4 separate regions of the Homo sapiens genome follow, and regions 1, 2 and 4 are each linked to region 3. Evidence: fine-mapped expression QTL. A gene starts in region 3. Each other region holds a variant in brackets. All regions are shown on one strand. Distances are from middle to middle. Region 1 overlaps ALPL (alkaline phosphatase, biomineralization associated). Region 2 overlaps ALPL (alkaline phosphatase, biomineralization associated). Region 3 holds the start of ALPL (alkaline phosphatase, biomineralization associated). Region 4 overlaps ALPL (alkaline phosphatase, biomineralization associated).

Evidence for each region.
Region 1: its variant is fine-mapped to the expression of ALPL in whole blood (TOPMed, PIP above 0.99).
Region 2: its variant is fine-mapped to the expression of ALPL in fibroblasts (GTEx, PIP above 0.99).
Region 4: its variant is fine-mapped to the expression of ALPL in whole blood (TOPMed, PIP 0.99).

What each region holds. Positions count from the first base shown.
Region 1 is chr1:21,560,619-21,565,864 of GRCh38, reverse strand. ALPL (alkaline phosphatase, biomineralization associated) reads right to left here. Exons shown (of 12, transcript NM_000478.6): 3 at 5,120-5,239; 4 at 4,653-4,768; 5 at 2,581-2,755; 6 at 1,649-1,824. Among named protein-coding and RNA genes, the nearest start is that of LINC02596, 23 kb to the left of the region's middle. The variant T/C (reference allele first, on the strand shown) is at 3,018.
Region 2 is chr1:21,550,878-21,556,134 of GRCh38, reverse strand. ALPL (alkaline phosphatase, biomineralization associated) reads right to left here. Exons shown (of 12, transcript NM_000478.6): 2 at 1,993-2,157. The coding sequence starts at 2,053. Among named protein-coding and RNA genes, the nearest start is that of LINC02596, 33 kb to the left of the region's middle. The variant T/C (reference allele first, on the strand shown) is at 2,560.
Region 3 is chr1:21,506,491-21,511,490 of GRCh38, reverse strand. ALPL (alkaline phosphatase, biomineralization associated) reads right to left here and starts at 2,068. Exons shown (of 12, transcript NM_000478.6): 1 at 1,974-2,068. RefSeq lists enhancers at 985-1,554, 1,555-2,125 and a silencer at 2,161-2,260.
Region 4 is chr1:21,538,151-21,543,150 of GRCh38, reverse strand. The region is part of intron 1 of ALPL (alkaline phosphatase, biomineralization associated); the gene reads right to left. Among named protein-coding and RNA genes, the nearest start is that of ALPL, 31 kb to the right of the region's middle. RefSeq lists an enhancer at 4,659-5,000. The variant A/G (reference allele first, on the strand shown) is at 2,153.

The DNA.
Region 1 (5,246 bases), 54 kb before region 3:
TTCTTTCTTTCTTTCTCTTCTTTCTTTTTTTTTTTTAAGCAACAGTATTTATTTTCAGGGTGGACACCAGGATTTTTGTTTCATGTACAGTCTGGGGACTGGGAGGCTTTTGGGGGGGTGGTGACGGAGAGGCAGGTGGGGCTGGGAGAGAAAGGAAGAGGAGGAAAGAAAGGGATCCTCACACAGGTCCTCCGTCCTCACTCACTCCCTGGCTTGTGCCCCTTGACGTGGCCCCTGCGGCCCCCCCTCCTCATCTCCCACCCCCTCACCTGAAACATCTTCCCTCCCCTCGAATTTCCTTCAAGTTCCTGTCCCCTGCTCAGGCTGTCCCTGACAAACCCCTCTGAGGAGCAGTCCCCATGTAATTATACCCTGTGCCTGTACAACAAATGTTCTCACATCCATGACCTCATCACGGCCTCCCACGGCCCTGGGAGCAAGCAAGTGTGGCTCTCTGTTTCTGCTGCACAGGTGGGGAAACTGAGGCATAGGGAGGGGAAGGAACTCGCCCCAGGCCACATGTCGGGTGAAGGCAAGCCAGGATGAGTGGCTTGGCCTCAGATGTCTGTTCAGTGAAAGGGGCCAACAGCACTGTGTGTCCTGAAAGCGGGTACTTAATCCACCATGCTGGGAAAAGGGCAGACGTGGGTCTCTACTGTGGAGGGGCCAAGTAGCCCCCAGAAATTTGTGGGGGGCAGTGCATGGAGGGCTGAAGGCAGGTGAGTTTGTCTGGTGGTGGAGAGAAAGAGGTGAGGTGTAGCTGGGCAGGGGGGCTTTCTCTGCCCCTCACCGAATCCCCATTCCAGGCTCAAGGGGCAGAAGTCCCCAGATCGCCTCAGCAGTCCCCCACAGTAGGCAATAAAAGCCTGAAAAGGAACGAGCCGGGCATTCTCACTTAAGAACAGAGAGTAAGCGTCACATGGATGACTTCTGTCTCCATGAGTCAGCTCAGTTTGTTGAAGTGTGTTTCAGGGCAAGGACATGTGGCTCCTGCGTAAGTGCCACCACCTTCTGGGCACTCGCTAGGCCTCGGGTCCTGTGCTGAGCTCCACAGGGATTATCTTAATCAGTTCTTGGCATAAGCTTATGAGGCAGGTACAGTTCACAAAGGAGTTGTGAAAGGGAAGCCTCAGAGAGGTTAAGTAACTGACCCAAGGTCACACAGCTAGCAACACGCAGGGCAAGGTCTGGAACTCGGAAGTTTAAACACGAGAGCTGGCACTAGCCAACCACTGTACACACCAGCTCTTTGCCGGGCATGCTGGTGGTTGAGTGTACAGATATGTACCCATCTGTGACCATGTGAATACGCAGGGCAGGCAGACGACACTTGGCCATCACCACCTCCCGTGTAGTGGGGGGCAGAGGAGGGCACAGCACCAGGTTTCAATTTATGGAATCATCCCTGGATGCCTGGTTCTTGGGGTGTGGTGGCGGTCACATGAGGGTTCACCCCGCAGCCCCACCGCAGAGAAATCCCACAGTGCCTGCCTGCCCAACCGCAAATCCCCTAATGGGCTGGGAGCCTCCCAGGTGTGTGGGGAGCCAGGCCAGGCTGCTTTCTCCGGGCCAGCCTGGGCCTGAGGCCTCCTGCCCACCAGAGGCCCCGCCTCACCCCGTCCCTGCCCGGCTGCCCCCGAGCACTCACGTCAATGTCCCTGATGTTATGCATGAGCTGGTAGGCGATGTCCTTACAGCCCTGGCTCAAGGCCTCAGGGGGCATCTCGTTGTCTGAGTACCAGTCCCGGTCAGCCGAGTGGGCGTAGGCGGCGCTGGGGGTGGCATGGTTCACTCTCGTGGTGGTCACAATGCCCACAGATTTCCCTGGGGTGCAGGAGGGGCGGGTTTGGCTTTATCCACAGATCGGGGTGTCCCAGAGGCCTCCTCCCTCCCTTCCCCCTCCCCGCTAAAGACAGGCCCCCGCTTCAGTTCTGAGGATTGCCCGGGTCTCAGTCTCCCCATCCACAGCAGCAGGTGTCTGGCAGTGGCTTCCAAGTAGCCGAGCAGCCAGAACACTGCCTCTGGAACCCTCTCCCCTCACCCCGAAGGCCCTTGAGATGTGAGCACCTGGGCTGGAGTCCTCCCCTTCATCAAGGCGCCCACAGGACCCCTGAGGGATCTCAAGTGGACTGTGGCTCTGTCACCTGTATGTTGGCCTTGTCACCTGTGTTTTGGCCTTGGCCCCTGACTAAAGCTTCTGGGGGCACAGGCTGGGCCTCCCAATTCTGAGGAGGGAAGGGGCGTGGCCATGGACTGCACCCCACAGGCTAGCCCTGGGCTGACTTCTCCCTCCTCACACCAACCCTATGAGGGGGCTACGTTCCCACCCGTTTTATAGTCAAATGAAGAATCGACTCAGAGAAATGAACTGGGACCAGAACCCACCACTGAGTGAACCCCAAACCCTCAGCTTCCCCTGTCACGGAAGGAATCCCATGGATATTACAGACTCCCAGCATATCAGAGCTGGGAGCCCCACAGAGAAGCCTTTTCTAGCCCCTTCCCATGACACAGTCAGAAAGACTGAGGCCTGGACAGGCCACGAAGCTGGCCCTGCTCCCCACTGCTCCCCCGACTCACCAGCGTCCTTGGCCCAGCGCAGGATGGAGGTGACCTCGTTCCCCTGGGTGGTGTTGCACCGGGAACGCTCAGTGGCTGCGCTTACCCCCACGGTGCCCTCATTGGCCTTCACCCCACACAGGTAGGCGGTGGCGGTGCCGGCACTGTCAGGGACCTGGGCATTGGTGTTGTACGTCTGCAGGTGGGAGAGGAGGGTCAGGAGATGGCCAGGCCTTCGCCCCAGTGGCACCCACCCCGCCTACACTCACACCATGGGGACTGGGGCGTGAGGGACCAGAGAGGACCCCATAGCCTTGACCAGGCCCACTGCCCACTGAAGCCCCCCAGAGCCACAGGACTACCTAGCTGCCTGCTTCCTGCCATCATTCCCTGCACCCTGGCAGCACTGGGGCAGGACCTTAGCTCTCCAAAGTACAGAGAAGTGTCCGGCGGAAGAT[T/C]GGGGCTCAGGTGGGGTCAGCGGAGGCCTCTCTCCGGGCCTGGGGCTGCAGGAGCCAGCAAGGGGTTGGGGAGCAGGGGAGTCCTGGAGAAGGGAGAGGGAGGGGCCTTCTTGAAGGAGTGGGGGGTCTGGGGATAGGGTAGTGAAAGTGAGGGGGAAGGGGACTGGGGAAGGGAAGGGTGGGGCCAAGACCAGCGCTGACTTCTCTGCCACCTGCCCTGCGGCCACCATCACAGGGTTGCCCTACATCCGGATGTTTAGCAGAGACCCCAAAACTATTTGCCTGTCTCCCTTCCCCACCAGCCTGAGAGCACCTTGAAGGCACAGAAGGCACCATAGTCCCCACTACTCCCCCAGAAGTGAGCCTGGGGCCTGACCCAGGGTCTGGAGGTTATTACATAACACCACTATCACCACCACCAATAGCAATAGCTACCCGGCAGTGCACACTGCCTTGAACAACCTAGGTCAGTACAGGCACACCTCATTTTAGTGTACTCCACAGACACTGTGTTTGTTACAAATTGAAGATCTGTGGCAACCCTGTGTCAAGCAAGTCTATCAGCATCATTTTTTCCAAAAACATGAGCTCACTTCATTAGCGTTTTTTAGCAATAGCATATTTTTAAATTAAGGTATATACATTTTTTTAGACATAATGCTATCCCACACTTAAAAGACTACTGTAGGGTGCAAACATAACTTTTATATGCACTGGGAAACCAAAAAATGTGTGACTTGCTTCATTGCAATATTTGCTTTATTACAGTGGCCTGGAACCAAACCCGAAGTATAGCTGAGGTATGCCTATAGTCTAATTAACTTCACGAACTGCCTCGGGAAAGAATGAATGAACTGGAACTTCATGCAAAAGTGTATACAGGCCAGGCACGGTGGCTCATGCCTGTAATCCTAGCACTTTGGGAGGCCAAGGTGGGCAGATCACCTGGGGTCAGGAGTTCGAGACCAGCCTGGCCAACAGGGTGAAACCTTGTCTCTACTAAAAATAAAAAAATTAGCTGGGCATGGTGGCGCATGCCTGTAATCCCAGCTACTTGGGAGGCTGAGGCAGAAGAATCACTTGAACTCGGGAGGCAGAGGTTGCAGTGAGCTGATGTCATGCTACTGTACTCCAGCCTGGAAGACAGAGTAAGACTGTCTCAAAAAAAAAAAAAAAAAAAAGGCATATATAGGCCGTGCATGGTGGCTCACGCCTGTAATCCCAAGACTGGGAGGCCAAGGCTGTAGGATCGCTTAAGCCCAAGAATTAGAGACCTTGGGGGGGTCTCTAATTATCCATATGTGGTGGTACACACCTGTAGTCCCAGCTACTCGGGAGGCTAACGTGGGAGGATGGCTTGAGCCCAGGAGTTGGAGGCTGCAGTGAGCTATGACTGCACCACTGCACTGCAGCCTGGGCAACAGAGCAAGACCCTCTCTCTAAACACACACCCGCAAGCAGGTACAGTGATGCTATGGTGTCAGAAGTCAGGGCAGTGGCTGCTCCAGGTGGGGAGTGGGCTTGGGCATGGAGGGGGCTCAGGGGGTCAGGGGACCTCTGGCTGCTGTCATGTTCAGATGCTCGACCTGGATACTGGATATACAGACCTGAACTGGGCTTGGGGATGGGGCTCACCTTGGAGAGGGCCACGAAGGGGAACTTGTCCATCTCCAGCCTGGTCTCCTCCCCAGGGTTGTGGTGGAGCTGACCCTTGAGGATGCGGGCAGCCGTCACTGTGGAGACACCCATCCCTGCAGTGGGGAGTGGGGGCCTCAGTCTCTCGTGCTCCTGCCTCTCCAATCAGCCTGCTTGGGTACCCAGAAGCTCTCTAGTTCGGTACCAAGGCAGGCTCGGGCAGTTGGCACTGGGCATGGCTCTGTAAATGTCAGTGAGCAGCCCCTCTCTCCCTTCACCCCCAGATCCTCAGGGGGCTGTCTGGCAGAGCAGGCCTCTTGAATCCACAGCCTGGCCCCTCATCCTTTTAAACACCCTTCCTCCAGAGCCCTAGCCCCTTCAACACAGCCCCCTTCAACTCAGCCTGGCTCCCGGGGCTCCTAGCTAGGTGTCCTGTTCCACCCCTCCCACAGGCCCCTGGGCCTCACCATCTCCCAGGAACATGATGACATTCTTAGCCACGTTGGTGTTGAGCTTCTGAAGCTCCAGGGCATATTTCAGTGTCTCTTGCGCTTGGTCTCGCCAGTACTTGGGGTCTTTCTCTTTCTCTAAACA
Region 2 (5,257 bases), 45 kb before region 3:
AACACCATGCCATGCTGTGGAAACACTTCCGCGTGAATCTCCAACAGAAAAACAAAAAACTCGGCCGGGTGCGGTGGCTCATGCCTGTAATCCCAGCACTTTAGGAGGCCAAGGCAGGCGGATCACCTGAGGTCAGGAGATCGAGACCATCCTGGCTAACATGGTGAAACCCCGTCTCTACTAAAAGTACAAAAAAATTAGCTGCGCGTGGTGGCGGGCACCTGTAGTCCCAGCTACTTGGGAGGCTGAGGCAGGAGAATGGCGTGAACCCGGGAGATGGAGCTTGCAGTGAGCCAAGATTGCGCCACTGCACTCCAGCCTGGGCGACAGAGAGAGACACTGTCTCAAAAAAAAGAAAAACAAAAAACTCCTGTTGAAGATGAGTTCACTAGTGAGAACTACAAATGACAAGAAAAAGGCTGGGCACAGTGGCTCACACCTGTAATCCCAGCACTTTGGGAGGCCAAGGCGGGTGGATCACTTGAGGTCAGGAGTTCGAGATCAGCCTGGCCAACATGATGAAACCCCGTCTCTAATAAGAATACAAAAAATTAGCCGGGTGTTGCGGCGCACGCCTGTAATCCCAGCTACTCAGGAGGCTGAGGCAGGAGGATCACTTGAACCTGGGTGGCGAAGGTTGCAGTGAGCTGAGATCACGTCACTGCACTCCATCCTGGGCAAACAGAGTGAGAGTCTGTCTCTGTCTCAAAAAGAAAGTGTCAGGCGTCTGAGCCCAAGCTAAGCCATCATATCCCCTGTGACCTGCACATATACATCCAGACGGCCTGAAGTAACTGAAGAATCACAAAAGAAGTGAAATTTAAATGGTCTGTTCCTACCTTAACTGATGACATTCCACCACAAAAGAAGTGAAAATGGCCGGTCCTTGCCTTAACTGACGACATTACCTTGTGAAATTCCTTCTCCTGGCTCATCCTGGCTCAAAAAGCTCCCCCACTGAGCACCTTGTGACCCCCACTCCTGCCCGCCAGAGAACCCCCCTTTGACTGTAATTTTTCCTTTACCTACCCCTATCTTATAAAACGGCCCCACCCATATCTCCCTTGGCTGACTCTCTTTTTGGACTTAGCCCGCCTGCACCCAGGTGAAATAAACAGCCTTGTTGCTCACTCAAAGCCTGTTTGGTGGTCTCTTCACTCGGATGCGAGAGAAAAGAAAGGAAAGAAAGGAAAGAAAAAGAAAAGAAAGAAAGAAAGAAAGAAAAGAGAAAGAAAGAAAGAAAGAAAAAGAAAGAAAGAGAGAAAGAAAGAAAGAAAGAAAGAAAGAAAGAAAGAAAGAAAGAAAGAAAGAAAGAAAGACAGACAGACAGACAGACAGACAGACAGGCCAGGCGCGGTGGCTCACGCCTGTAATCCCAGCACTTTGGGAGGCCGAGGCAGGCGGATCATGAGGTCAGGAGATCGAGACCATCCTGGCTAACACGGTGAAACCCCATCTCTACTAAAAATACAAAAAATTAGCCTGGCGCGGTGGCGGGCACCTGTAGTCCCAGCTACTTGGGAGGCTGAGGCAGGAGAATGGCGTGAACCCAGGAGGCAGAGCTTGCAGTGAGCCAAGATGGCGCCACTGCACTCTAGCTTGGGCAACAGAGCGAAACCCTGTCTCAAAAAAAAAAAAATTAAGAAAGAATATATATAATATATATGAAATATATATATGGAAAAATATATATATGAAATATATATATGGAAAAATATATATGTGGAAAATATATATTTCCTTGTATATATATATTTTCCTTGTATATATATATTTCATATATGTGTATGTGTGTATATATATATATATGGGAAAAGAGTGACCTATCCAACTAACACATGCAAGTAGCAGGGCTGAGGTTTCCTGCTCTGAACACTGTTTTCAGCTCTTAAATACTTTGGATGGTTCTGGGACCTTAAAACATAGACACTGCCCTCATCATACCCCATCTGCACCACCTTTTTATGCCTCCACCTGTGTCCCCAAGCATACCTGGCACTAAGGAGTTAGTAAGGCAGGTGCCAATGGCCAGTACTAAGAATGGTGAAATCATGGTGCACCCCAAGACCTGCTTTATCCCTGGAGCCCAGAGATGCAATCGACGTGGGTGGGAGGGGGTGGGCTGGCAGTGGTCAGATGTTAACTGATGTTCCAATCCTAGAAATTAAAAAAAGAGAAAAAGAGGCATGTGGGGCACAGCTCTAGAGATCCTTTTTCACTCACTTATTCATTCCTTGATTCATTCAACAAGTATTCGGTGAGCACCTATTACAGACCAGGCATGGGGCTCAACATTGGGATGCCAAACCCAGCTGGTCCCTGTCTCAGGAAGCTTAACCACACAAACAGCTGTGTCAGTGTCAATGAGTTCCATGCTGCAAAGCAGTTCCGTCCCATTTCCTAAGTGAATTTCCACTTTCAATTCATCTGAAGCCCCCTACCTCCCAGAGTCCAATCTTTTGGTGCAGTGTTTCTCAAACTGTAAGGAGAGCAAGCATCTGAATCCCCCAAGGGCTTGTTACAACAGATTCCCGGCCCACTGGTGAGGCTCCGATTGTA[T/C]TTCTAATAAGCTCCCAGGAGAAGCTGCTGCTTTGCTGCTTTGCGGACCACACCTTGAGAAGCCCTGTTCTACAGCACTCGGTCTTCAGCCTTTTAATTACCTGTGTCCCAGGAACATCAGGGACAAAACAGAGTGCACCCCTTCTTTCAGGACCCCTACATTTGCTACATTCTCTTCTAGAGCTTGTCGTTTATGGTAAGAGATATAAAAATGGTAGGAGTCACATATGTGAAAAAACTGGCTGGTAAGTGTGGCCATTTCTGGGTGGTGACATCACAGACAACTGATTTTTCTTTTCCATTGTCTTTTCTGCATTTCCAAAATTTTCTTTTGTGCTGAGATACAGTATTATCTTTACAATTTTTAAAAAATATATATATATTTAAAGTCGGATGTAATTGAAGAGTTTAGGTGGAAAAAAAAACTGGAAGGAAATACACCAAAACATTAACTGTGGTTTTCTCTGGGTGGTAGGACTATGAATGATTATTTCCTCTTTATTTTTTTGAATTTTCCAAGTAGCCTAAAACAAGCATGTATTAATGGCATAAGAATGTTTTTACACTGTGGTCTTCCTGTTAAATCACAAAGAACAACCCCACTGGCAGCTGAGAAATGTACTAACCCTGTTGCACATGAGTTACAAGACAAAGAATTTTAAGTGGCAAGAGTTTCACTGGGAAATGTTATTGCTTCAGCCAAAACCAAGATATGACACCATTTGTTGTGGGAAACAGCAGTAATACACACTCTACCGTTAGAAAAGTGTTGTGACAGATAAGACACCACTCTAGTCCAATTATTATATGTTAAGTAAAAACAAAATAAAACATTTTTTAAAAGTTGTTTAAAGAAAAAAAGCCAGGCATGGTGGTAACATGCCTGTAATCCCAGCTACTTGGGAAGCTGAGGCTGGAGGAAGTTCGCTTCAGGCCTGGAGTTGGAGACCAGCCTGGGCAACACAGCGAGACCCTGTCTCTAAGAAAAATTTTTGTATTTTAATTTTTTAAAAGTTTCTTTTCTTTTTAAAAATTCTTCTCTTTGCAGCTCCAGCTCAAAGGAAAAAGATTTTTTCTTTTTCTTTTTTTTTTTTTTGAGACGGAGTTTTGTTCTTGTTGCCCAGGCTGGAGTGCAATGGCACAACCTCGGCTCACTGCAACCTCCGCCCCCCGGGTTCAAGCAATTTTCCTGCCTCAGCCTCCCGAGTGGCTGGGATTACAGGCTTGCGCCACCATGCCCGGCCAATTTTGTATTTTTAGTAGAGATGGGGTCCATGTTGGTCAGGCTGGTCTCGAACTCCCGACCTCAGGTGATCTGCCCACCTTGGCCTCCCAAAGTGCTGGGATTACAGGTGTGAGCTGCCGCGCCCATCCAAGATTTTTTTTTTTAATTTAAAAATAGAGAAAAAGAAAAGGAGAAAAGGAAGGAGGGAGGGGAGGGGAGGGGAGGGAGGAAAGGGAAGGGGAGGAAAGGGAAGGGAAGGGAAGGGAGAAAAAGAAACCACTACCACCAGAAGAAGGATCTTGATTCAACCTTAAAAACACGCAAATGGCCGGGCGCGGTGGCTCACGCCTGTAATCCCAGCACTTTGGGAGGCCGAGGCGGGCGGATCACGAAGTCAGGAGATCGAGACCATCCTGGCTAACACAGTGAAACCCCGTCTCTACTAAAAATACAAAAAATTAGCCGGGAGAGGTAGCGGGCGCCTGTAGTCCCAGCTACTCAGGAGGCTGAGGCAGGAGAATGGCGTGAACCCGGGAGGCGGAGCTTGCAGTGAGCCGAGATCGCGCCACTGCACTCCAGCCTGGGCGACAGCGAGACTCTGTCTCAAAAAAAAAAAAAAAAAAAAAAAAAACCACGCAAGCTGCGCTCCAGTGCCAGAAGTGACGGCTCTGGGGTAGGGGCTGGGGGTAGCGGCGCAGAGTGGAAATTAAAAGGCAATATCCCACATCTAACATCTAACAACACTTAACTGTGAGTGGTAGAATTTGGAATTTCAGATGATTCCTACATTTTTTTTTTTGTTCTACTTTACGGTTTCCAAATATTTCTATAGCAAATCCTAAAATCAGAAAAATGTTATTAACTGAATACGAAATACTAATTCATTAAACTATTATTTAAAATCACTTAAAAATGAAGTCACCTCTTTCAGGAAGGCTCCAGGATGGTCACTCACTCATTCCAATATAACACCACTGAGCTTCATGCCACCTCAAACATCGCATGTACCTCTCTTTTTGAAGGTAATATAGTTCTTTCCTGGGCCATCTCAGCTGCCACACCGGGAGTTTCTAAGTGTGAGGACTTTGTCTTGTTTGTCTCTGCCCTCCTAGTGCTTGGCATAGTAAATATTTACATCAGTTGAAAGCCAGTGCCCTAAGGAAGGTTGTGGGGGGAAGGGAAGAGCCATCCAAAATTATCTTCTCTGTGTGTGCAGGAAAGTCCAAGAGTTCGTGAAGATGTTTAACTACCGGAAGGTCCGCTCGCCGTTGGTGGAGTGCAGACAGGCACAGCGCATGGGAAAACCGGCAGGATCTACCGAAGCTGATCATCCTACCTGTACCCTGGGACCCGTTTCTCTCCAGCAGAATGTGCACATCAGCCCTGTTTATAATGGCTTCAAAACTGCCTCCATCTACGGCAGGCTGGATAATACATTGTGTGTGTTCACAACACAGAAACCACCACAGACAG
Region 3 (5,000 bases):
GAAGAGAGCTGAGGATAGCCAGGATTTTCTTAAGCACAGGTACCAGCTTAAACCCTTCGCAAGCATTCATCATATCTAGACCTCACCACTGGTAGGCACTATTGATCTCCACAGCTTATGGGAGGAGGCCGAGGCACAGAGAGGGAACAGAACTGATCCCAGGTCCCACAGCAAGGCTGCCTTTGCTAAAGTGAGGGCCAAAGGTTGGCCAATCCATTTTACAGGTGATTGCGTCTTAATCTCCTTCCTTATGAATAGCTTGATTTCAAGTCTACACTGTGAATTCTGACAGTTTCAAAGCCTGAAAGAATTTTGTTATGCAAACATCCAATCCAGAAGAGGGCTTTTGGCTGATTTACTGTGGCATTCCCGGCACCTAGAACAGAGCTTGGCACACGGCGGATGCTTAAGTATTTGCTGAATGAAGATAGCATCTTGTTCTGGCCTCAGTTCAGTTTTATTCCTCACAATAGTCCCGAAAGGGGAATACACCCCTTTTTACAAATGGGCACATGGACCGGGATCATCACTCAGCCTAGTCTTCACCAGTTGGGATGTTGAGAAGCTGTGTCCAGGGGCCTCTTCTGAGGGAATTCACAGGTATTCAGTTAAAGAAAGAAAAAGGTGACACAGGAACAAGATGCATGGGGCCAGGGAGTGGGATGGCTGGGGCAGGACAGCGTGGGGACACCCACAGGTGGGGAGGACTAAACAGTTGGAAAGAGCAAGACTGGAGAGTGGAGGAAGAGCGGGCTGAGCCCAGGAGGAGCCGGAAGACAAAACCAAGGCTCAGCCCCCTATCTCTTAGGCAACACAGTGGGAGCAGGACGCTAGGGCTGCAGAGTTTGGAGTCTGGATTCAAACCCTGGTCCCACCACTTACTTAAATTGTCTAAGCCTCAGTTTCCCCATTTGTAAAATGAAATGATGTACATGAGATGTCAGAGCAGGTCCCTCTACGCACGGTAGGCCTTCAAAAAACAGTTGCAGTATCTACACTGAGGCTGGGACCCAACCCCTGCCTCCCTGGGCAGCTGGGCCCACCTGAGCGGTCTGACTTTTTCCCAGGGCCCAAAGCCCTTCCTGGCCCAAGAATCGCCCCCTCTTTTGATCTCAAGGAATTTCACCCTCCACCCAGAGGCCTTTGTAAAGGCCCCGCCTTCGACCCCATTATGTGTTGAAAAAGAGTCATAAGGCACAATGGGGAGTGGGGGAGGCTTTCCTCGGCCTCCTGCCTTTCTGCTGAGACCTGCGTTTAACCCTTTCTTACCAAGACTGGGCAGGGAAGCAGCCCTGGGAGGCCCACCTCGCAAAGCCTAAAGGGGGCGGCAGGCTCCTTCGGCTTCGCGGGCTCCAGAGCTTTGCCCCACAGCTGCGGTGCCCACAGTGGGTGCCCACACTTTGACACCCACGCGGGTGTCCTCTGTCTCCTCCCGCCACGCCCCCCATTCCAAGCGCCTCCTGCCCTCTCCTCCTCCCAAACCAAACTGCTTTAGACCCCACCGGGTCAGGTGGGACGCCTGGGAGGGCGCCAGGCCACGAGGCCTTGGGGTTGGCAGCCCAGGTCTCTAGAGCTACGGCTAAGGAGGCACCAGGAGGGGCTCAGTCACGGGGCACCAAGGGCAGGTGCCCAGACAGAGCGCAGGGTCCCAGGCAGCGGCTCGGGAGGTAGGAGACCCTGGGACTGCAGGGCGGTCCCGAGCGCGGTCCCCTGAGTTCGCCGGCTCCGCGGGCGCCACGTCCAATCTCCTGTCCCGCCCAGAGCGCGCGCCGGGAGCTTGGGATGCGCGGGAGGACAGGGGCAGGACCAATTGCAGGGCGTCCCGAATGGGCTGCTGTGGGCGGCGTGGCGCTGGAGACCCCGGCCCTGCCATTAAAGTTCAACCACGGGGCCAGCGGAGGATGCAGAAGGGGATGGACCACGTCCGCTGGGGCCCTGGGGAACCAGGGCGCGGGGCAGCGTCGAATCCTTACCTGCGCAGAGCACTGGCGAGGGTCCGTCCAGGCACAAGCGCGTGGGAGCACGGAGCCAGGATAGCGGGCGCGGAGTGGCGGGAGCGCAACGCGGCCCGGGCCACCACCCCCGCCGCCTTATAAAGGCGGCCGCGGGGCCCGAGTGAGGCCCGGGCAGCCCGCCCCCTCCCCCGCCCCCGGCCCCAACCCCTCCCCAGCCCGGCCCCGGCCCCGCCCCCGGCCCGAGCCCCGCGCCCCGCGGGCCGGTCGTGCCACGAGGCCAGGGCGCCCCCTGCCGGGAGCGGAGCTAGGAACGGGCTGGGGTGACGCGGCCCTGGCGTCCCTCGCCCGCCCCGCACTCTCGGTCTCTCTGCCTCCGGGCTGCCCCAGCCCAGCCCTTCCTCTCTCAGCGAGCCTGGGCTCTGACCTGCTCCTTGCGCGCGTCTCCTGTTTTGTCTTTACCGTCGGCATCTTCCTTCTGCGTCTCTTGGTGGGAGTCTTTGTCTCCACCCGTCTCTTTGTCTGCCTTCCTCTCTGGCGTCTGTCTCTGTGTCTGTCAACATATCTGGCTTTCTCTGGGTCTCTGTCTTTATCCGTCTCTGCCCACGTGTCCCTGTCTCTCTGTCTCTGTCCACGTGCACCTCTGACTCTGCACCCCCACCCCCGCTTCCCTGCCCGTGGGCTGCCTCCCTGGCTACCGCAAGAAGAAGCAGAAGGGGACCTCGGAGGGGTGGCATCTGGAGGGAAACCACCCCCTAGACAGGGGCCCTTCCCTCTTTCTCTCTTTAGAGACGTAAAGGGCCCGCAGGTGTCCGGCTATGTCCCAGCCAGAGCCCCAGGACATGCTCCCTGGATGCCAGAGGAGGGGCAGGCACTTCCCAGGCAGTTGAGTCAGACAGCTCAAGTTCAAAACTCTGCTCTGGTGACCTTGGCCAAGTCACTTGACCTATGTGGACCAGCCTGCCCCTCTTTAACAGGCAGACACCATCTCCCCTGGCCTCTCGCTGGTGCGAGAGTCATATGAGACAGTGCTTGAAAACTACAGAGGAAACGCTAAAATCCCGGATAGACGGGAGCCAGGGACAGAGGCTGGGTGCTACAGGCCCTGCTCCCGCTCCTGGGGAACCAGCTCTGATGGAATAACCACTCCCTTTCCTCTGAGCACTGAATTCTCTGGGCAACTTCGCAGTGAGAAGTCCGCAGGCTCTGTTTGAATGCCTCCAGCGACAGAGCTCACTGACTCCTAACAGGAGGGTCTTCTCAGTGGCCCTTGGGAAAATGTCTGCCCAGAGAACCAATTTTAGCCAGGTCAGGCAACCTCTCTTCCACTCACTCCATGCCAGTCTCAGGGCCAGGCACTGTGCATGCATTAACTTCCAAAAGCTCCATTTTCCAGAGGAGAAAACTGAGGCCCAGAGAGATCATGTGACTTCTCAGTAAGGTTGGAGCCAGAACTGGGGCCTGGTGCCAGAAACCAAGAATGTCTTTGTATTTATTTTTGTTTCTTTTGTATTTTTGGTTGATACTGTTTATTTAGAGGCGTGACATAGGTTCCCTTTTCAGATAAGTTTATGTTTTTTAAAAGTGAGTCAAAATATTGAGTAAATACTATTTATTTATGTATTTCATGGGTTGGGTGATATGGCAAAAATCATGGAGGTAGCAAATGAATGGAGTTTAGGAAATACCATCCTCTGTAAGAAATTGCAGGTGAAAGCACCCAGCACTGGGCCTAAAACATGGGAGGGGCTCAATACTTGCTCACAAATGCCAAGGAAGGGTTTAAGGATTCCAGGAGACTTAAGATGGTATCATCATCAGTGAGCCAGGGGCAAGTCCCCAGGCATGGAAAATCTGCCTGTTGCTTGGACAGAGGCTGGGAGGCAGAGCCAGAGGGAATTGGAGGCACCCATTGCACCTATCATGGGGCCAGCACCCCTGACTTTTTTTTTTTTTTTTTTTTGAGACAGGGTCCCACTCTATTGCCTAGGCTGGAATGCAGTAGCATGATGTCAGCTCACTGCAGCCTCGACCTCCCGGGCTCAAGTGATCTTCCCACCTCAGCCTCCCCAGCAGCCAGGACTACAGGTGTGCACCACCACGCCCGGCTAATTTTTGTATTTTTTTGTAAAGAACAGGGTTTTGCTATGTTGCTCAGGCTGGTCTCGAACTCCTAAGCTCAAGTGATCCCCCTGCCTCCTTATCCCAAAGTGATGGGATTACAGGCATGAGCCACCACACCCGACCCTATCCCTGACTTCTGATCTCCCCAAAGCTATGAGGGACGGGCACTTCTGGTTGAGCCACATGGCCAGCATTAGGTCCCCCATGTCTGTGATTTGCCCTCAAGTCCCTCCACCTCGGGATTTCAGGGATTGGTTATCAGCAGCAGGGACTATACTGCTTGGCCAGCCCTGCCACCTTCCACCCTCAAACCCTCTTACTCTGCTCCTGGGCTGGGTCCCTCAAGGAGAATTCAACTGAGATGGGGCATCCAGCAGCCCTTGCCTCCCCTGCTCCCCGGGTGCCCCTCCTCCTGGCTCTGTCAACACAGCGGAAAGAAGTCCTGGACCTGGAACCAGGAGACTCCAGTCCATCCTCCAGCTCTGCCCTGGCTTGCTGGGGAGCTGAGCAAGTCACTTTTCCCATCGAGGTTCAGATTCCTTCTGGCCTTTTGAACTGGACAATCTCTAAGTGCAACCCAGATGCCATGATTTCAGGACCACTCAGCTGGTGGCAACAGCTCATTACATTCGATTTCTCTCCATCATTGTCCCTGGGGCACCACTTCCTTGTTGAAAACTAAACAAATTGGATTTAACCTCCAAGCTCCCTGTGCCTAAGAGCTAATGATGTCTTTTGAGTCTCACAGCAGTATCATAAGGTGGGCAGGGCAGGTGTTTACAATCCCCACTATACATGGGGTACACCAAGGCCAGAGATAGTAGTTACTTACAGGTCAGGGTCAGAGCTGGGTTTGGTTACCAGGTTTACTATTCCCAGTCCAGGGCTTTTTCCATTCATCCATTTATTCCGTATCTGTTAAGT
Region 4 (5,000 bases), 32 kb before region 3:
TTTTTTGTTTTGAGACAGGGTCTTACTCTGTCGCCCAGGCTGGAGTGCAGTGGCACGATCATAGTTCACTGCAGCCTTAAGCGATCCTCCTGCCTCAGCCTCCCAAGTAGCTGGGACTACAGGCACACATTACCACATTTGGTTAATGTTTACATTTTTAAAATAGAGGTGGGGTCTCACTATGCTGCCCAGGCTAGTCTCGAACTCCTGGGTTCAAGTGATCCTCCTGCCTCAGCCTCCCAAAATGCTTGGATTACAGGTATAAGCCGCTGTGCCCAGCTGGAAGCTGTATTTTTTTGGTGGGGGGATTGGGGGGATGGAGTCTTGCTCTGTCACCCAAGCTGGAGTGCAGTAGCGCAATCTCGGCTCACTGCAACCTCCGCCTTCAGAGTTCAAGCGATTCTCATGCCTTAGCCTCCCTAGTAGCTGGGATTGCAGGCCCACCACCATGCCCGGCTAATTTTTGTTTTTAGTAGAGACAGGGTTTCACCATGTTGGCCAGGCTGATCTTGAACTCCTGGCCTCACGTGATCCGCCCGCCTCGGCCTCCCAAAGCACCGGGATTACAGGCGTGAGCCACTGCGCCTGGCTGGAAGCTATATTTTTAACAAGTCATTTTCTGAGCAGATTCATTTGGGAAACTTTGTCTTAGAGATCATCCCATTGTCCAAATGGGAAGACTGAGGCCTAAAGAGGAGGAAAGCCTTGCCCGGTGAGAGGAACCACTATAAGCAGACCCTGCATCTCTCAGCTGCTCCCCACCAGAGGCACACATAGGGAACTGAGTCAGCTTGGAGCCAGCATCCCCTAGCCTGTCAGCTGGGCCTTCTGGGCTCTTCCAAGGAGCTGTGGCTAGAGAGGAGTGCTGAGTTGCCCTTGTGTCCCTGGTGGGCATGAGGAATGAGGCAGGGGCTGGGGGGCACCTGCATAGCTGCCTAGGGAGGGAGCCCTGCTGAAGACCAGCCCAGTAACATTTCAGCTGCAGAGTCATAGGGAAGGGACATGGAATTCCTCTCTCCGCCAAGCCCAGCATCTCTGGCAAGCCTTGCTGGCCAGGACTGTATTCATTACTGGAGGAAGTTATTTATGGCTGTCATGAAGAGCTGGATGAAGTGCTTGCGCAGGAATGTGTGGTGGTTTCAGAGTGGGCTGCAGGTCAGATCCAAGGAAGGACTTCCCTAGAGGGCAGTGGGCCAGTGCTGGGGATTATAGTAAGGCTCAGACTTCTAGCCATTGACAGCACCCCATCCTGGCAGGAAACAGACGTGGAAGTACCCCAGAGGCCTGGTGCCAAGCCACTGCATCTTTAGGGCTTTGATGAGAACCCAGCTGTCCCCTGAGCGCTCCCAGCCTCAACACCTCTGCACTCTGTGCTTCCCAGACTAGAATGTCCCATGCTGTCCAACCAATGAATCCCTCCCCCTGCCCTCTCCCTACCCTACCCCAGCCCAGACAGCAGTTTCGGCTCCTCCCCAAGCTCCCAGCACCCAGTGCCATGAAGCCCTTGGTGAAATTAATCAGAGCCTTAGAGAATCATAGGTTGTCACCCTCTCACCGTGGTGAGCTCCTAGGGAGCTGGAATCCTGCTCTGCTGATGGCAGCAGCCCCGTGGCTGGCAGAGGCCGGCACAGGCCGGGTGGCCAGGGAATGTCGCTAGGTGGAAGGATGATGGGGTCAGAGGGTGGGTGGCTGAAGAGACAGCTCAGCAGCAGTGAAGATGGATGCTGGAGCCAGGCTGCCTGGATTCTGATCCTGCCTCTGCCCCTCACCAGCTGGGCAGCTCAGAGCAGGTGACCTCACCCCTCCACACCTAATAGAAGCCACTGCGTTGTTGTAAGGATGCCTTCATACACACAAGGGTGTAAAACGGAGGCTGGGATGTGGTAGGTGCTGAGTGAATGTCAGTCAGGAGCTAGGGTTATGGGGAGGGGGAGCAAATGAGGTGGATGGACTGCGGGGCAGAGATGGGCAAGTGGGGCAGATGAGGGGCTGGAGCAGAGAACGGATGGACCCTTCCCCGCCCACTCGATCAAGCCACCATATGCTTTGGGATTTCCCAGAGACCTGTTCACCTGGATGGCTGCAGACAGTCCTTCCAGCTCTGAGACTCTAGAACCCAGAAGCTCACCTGCCTGCTGAGTACTTTCCCTTC[A/G]AAGGGCCTGTTCTTAAGCGGCAGAGGTCCTATTCTTACAGTCAAAGGGCTCCCATCTCCAAAGAGAACCAGATCTCTCTCTCCCTCACACACTCACTTGGGAAGAAAGGAGTAACCTGCCAGGTAGCCTGACACTTCCTTTCCATCTTGAAGGGGAGAGAGAGAAAGTCTAGGACAGGGTATGGGCCAGAAGTGTCCGTGGGGGTGGGTCGAGCACCAGGCTGGAAGGATGATGGGGTTGAGATGAGCAGAGAGAGAGAGAGGACACTCCCAACAGGACCTGAGTGTTTAAAGGCAAGGAGGCAGGAATGTGTGGAGTTTGGGGTTCAGGGAGAAAGGCACGAGCAGGCGGCTTGCATTCAGGACAGAGGGGCAGCCTGGACCCACCACAAAGGGCTCTGCTCCCCAAGCACGGCCTGGTGGAGAGCAGGCCCTCTGCATGCCTCATCTCACTACATGCCCCATTGCCAGCTCCATTTTACAGGTGAGGAGGGTGAGGCTCTGACTGTCACTTACTCAAGGCCACACAGCAGAGCTGGAATCAGAAACCCTGAGGGTCTGGGTTCAGAGAAGCCAAAGCTTCTCTGGGGGTCCCTGAGGCTCCAGGACGGTCATGATGCCCCAAACCAACTCTGTGGGCAGAGGACTGAAGCCAGAGGACTAGTGGCAGGAGAGAAGCAGCAGGGAGGCGCAGTAGGGAGATCGCAGGGGAGGGAGATAGCAGGGCCCAGAGACACCATGCCTGGGGCCTGCAGTGCCCAGGCAGGGGTCGGGGGCGGAGCATGGCTGCTTTGCAGGCACACAGCCTTCTGCCATGCCATGGAAAGGACATGTTCTGCCCCAGGCCACCTCACTCTGTGCCAAGCCTAGATGCCAAGTACAGAAAGCGGTGGGGGAGGGTGGCGCACGCACTACATCTGCGGTGTTCGCCAACCACCTCCTCCAGCACTTCCCTCAGCCCTCTGCAGGGGGAGCCTCCCTGGTACTAGGAGACATGGCCGGCCCATCCTTGCTCTCACAAACAACAAGAAAAGGAAGGCACAGGCCGGGCGCGGTGGCTCAAGCCTGTAATCCCAGCACTTTGGGAGGCAGAGGTGGGCAGATCACGAGGTCAGGAGATCGAGACCATCCTGACTAACACGGTGAAACCCTGTCTCTACTAAAAATATACAAAAAATTAGCTGGGCTGGGTGGCGGGCACCTGTAGTCCCAGCTACTCGGGAGGCTGAGGCAGGAGAATGGTGTGAACTCGGGAGGTGGAGCTTGCAATGAGCTGTGATCGTGCCACTGCACTCCAGCCTGGGTGACAGAGTGAGACTCCATCTCAAAAAAAAAAAAAAAAGGAAAAAGAAAAGGAAGACACAGAGAGGGTACACAACCTCCCCAGTGTCACACAGCACATCAGGGGCAGGGATAGGTCTCCCCACTAACCAGCTGAGGATTTGGGGGGCAATTACTGGAAAGGCAAGGCAGTGTTCAAGGCGCAGCTTGGATGCCAATGTCTTGGACTTCCGTACATTAGTGATTTGCGGCAACTGATGAAAATATTTCAAACTGAGACTATTTTAGAAAAATCCTATTTTACATATTTTGTCATCGTATTCATAAGATTAATAATAACAAACCTTTTCATAGACCTTATTATGTGCCAGGCATTGTTCTAAACACTTTACCTATATTAACTCACTTGATCCCCACAACAACCTTCAAGGTAAGCACTATTATTATCCCCATTTTACAGATGACAAAACAGAAGCACAGAGAGATTAAGGAGCATGCCCAAGGTCACACAGCCAGTAAGTGAGCGAGCCAGAATTCAGCCTTACTTGGGGATGTTTCTGTCTCCCAGGACTAAGCATAAACTCCTCAAACAGGAGGCAAGACTGGAAACAAACCACCATTTGCCCTCTCTGCAATATGTACATTACACAGACACATTATACTTTTGCAGATGAAGGGATTGCGTGCAGCTGCTATTTGATTCACACTCACTACACTCTGTTCCCAAATGTTATTTCATTGTATCTGCACCACGGTTCCCAGTGGGAGGGCTTCCTATAATCATAACTTTACAGGAGAGGTGAGGTGACTTGCCAGAGGTCACACAGCAAGAGAATGTCACATCTAGGGTCCAAGTCTCTTCTGATCTTTGCACGGTATCTTGTAGCCAGCCCTGCAGTGCAACTCACTTGGGGCTTGCAGTGGCAGGGAGGGGAGGATCCCAGATTCAAGACCTGGCATTCAAGACCTGGCTCTGCCCCCGGCCAGGTGGGCGCACCCTGGCCACCCCCACCCATAATCCCCTCCTTCAACTCATCCTCAAGACAGGGCATTGGCCAATCCCGGCTCTCCCCACTCCCCTCCCCCTAGCAGAGGATGTGTCCATTGTGCAGATGGCCCCACGCAGGCCCTGTGAGAGGAGGCTGAGGAGGCGCCGGGCTGTGGGAAAAGGGACAATGAACTTGTAGCTTGCTGGGCAGCGGCCAGCACAAGCCGAATCCCTGGGTGGCGGGCGCAGAGGGCTCAGATCAGAGGAGGAAGGACGCGGGTGTTCCCAGAGACAGTGCTCAGGGCAGCTGGGCTCCAGATAACAGCGTTCCTCGCATTCCCAGAGGACGCTCCAGCCGGCCACAGAAGGCTCCGGTGGCTTTTGCGTTTGATCTCCGCGGCGACCTTGGGACATAGTAGGGCAGGGCTGACGCCGAGAGCCCCAGACAGGAAACTGGGGCCTATGGAGGTGAGGTCCCACCCAAGGGCATGCAGCTCAGCAGGCCCCCATTGACCTTGGGCACACCACCTCACCCGTCAAATGGGGACCATCCTGGTGAGAGCCTACGTCACTGGAGGA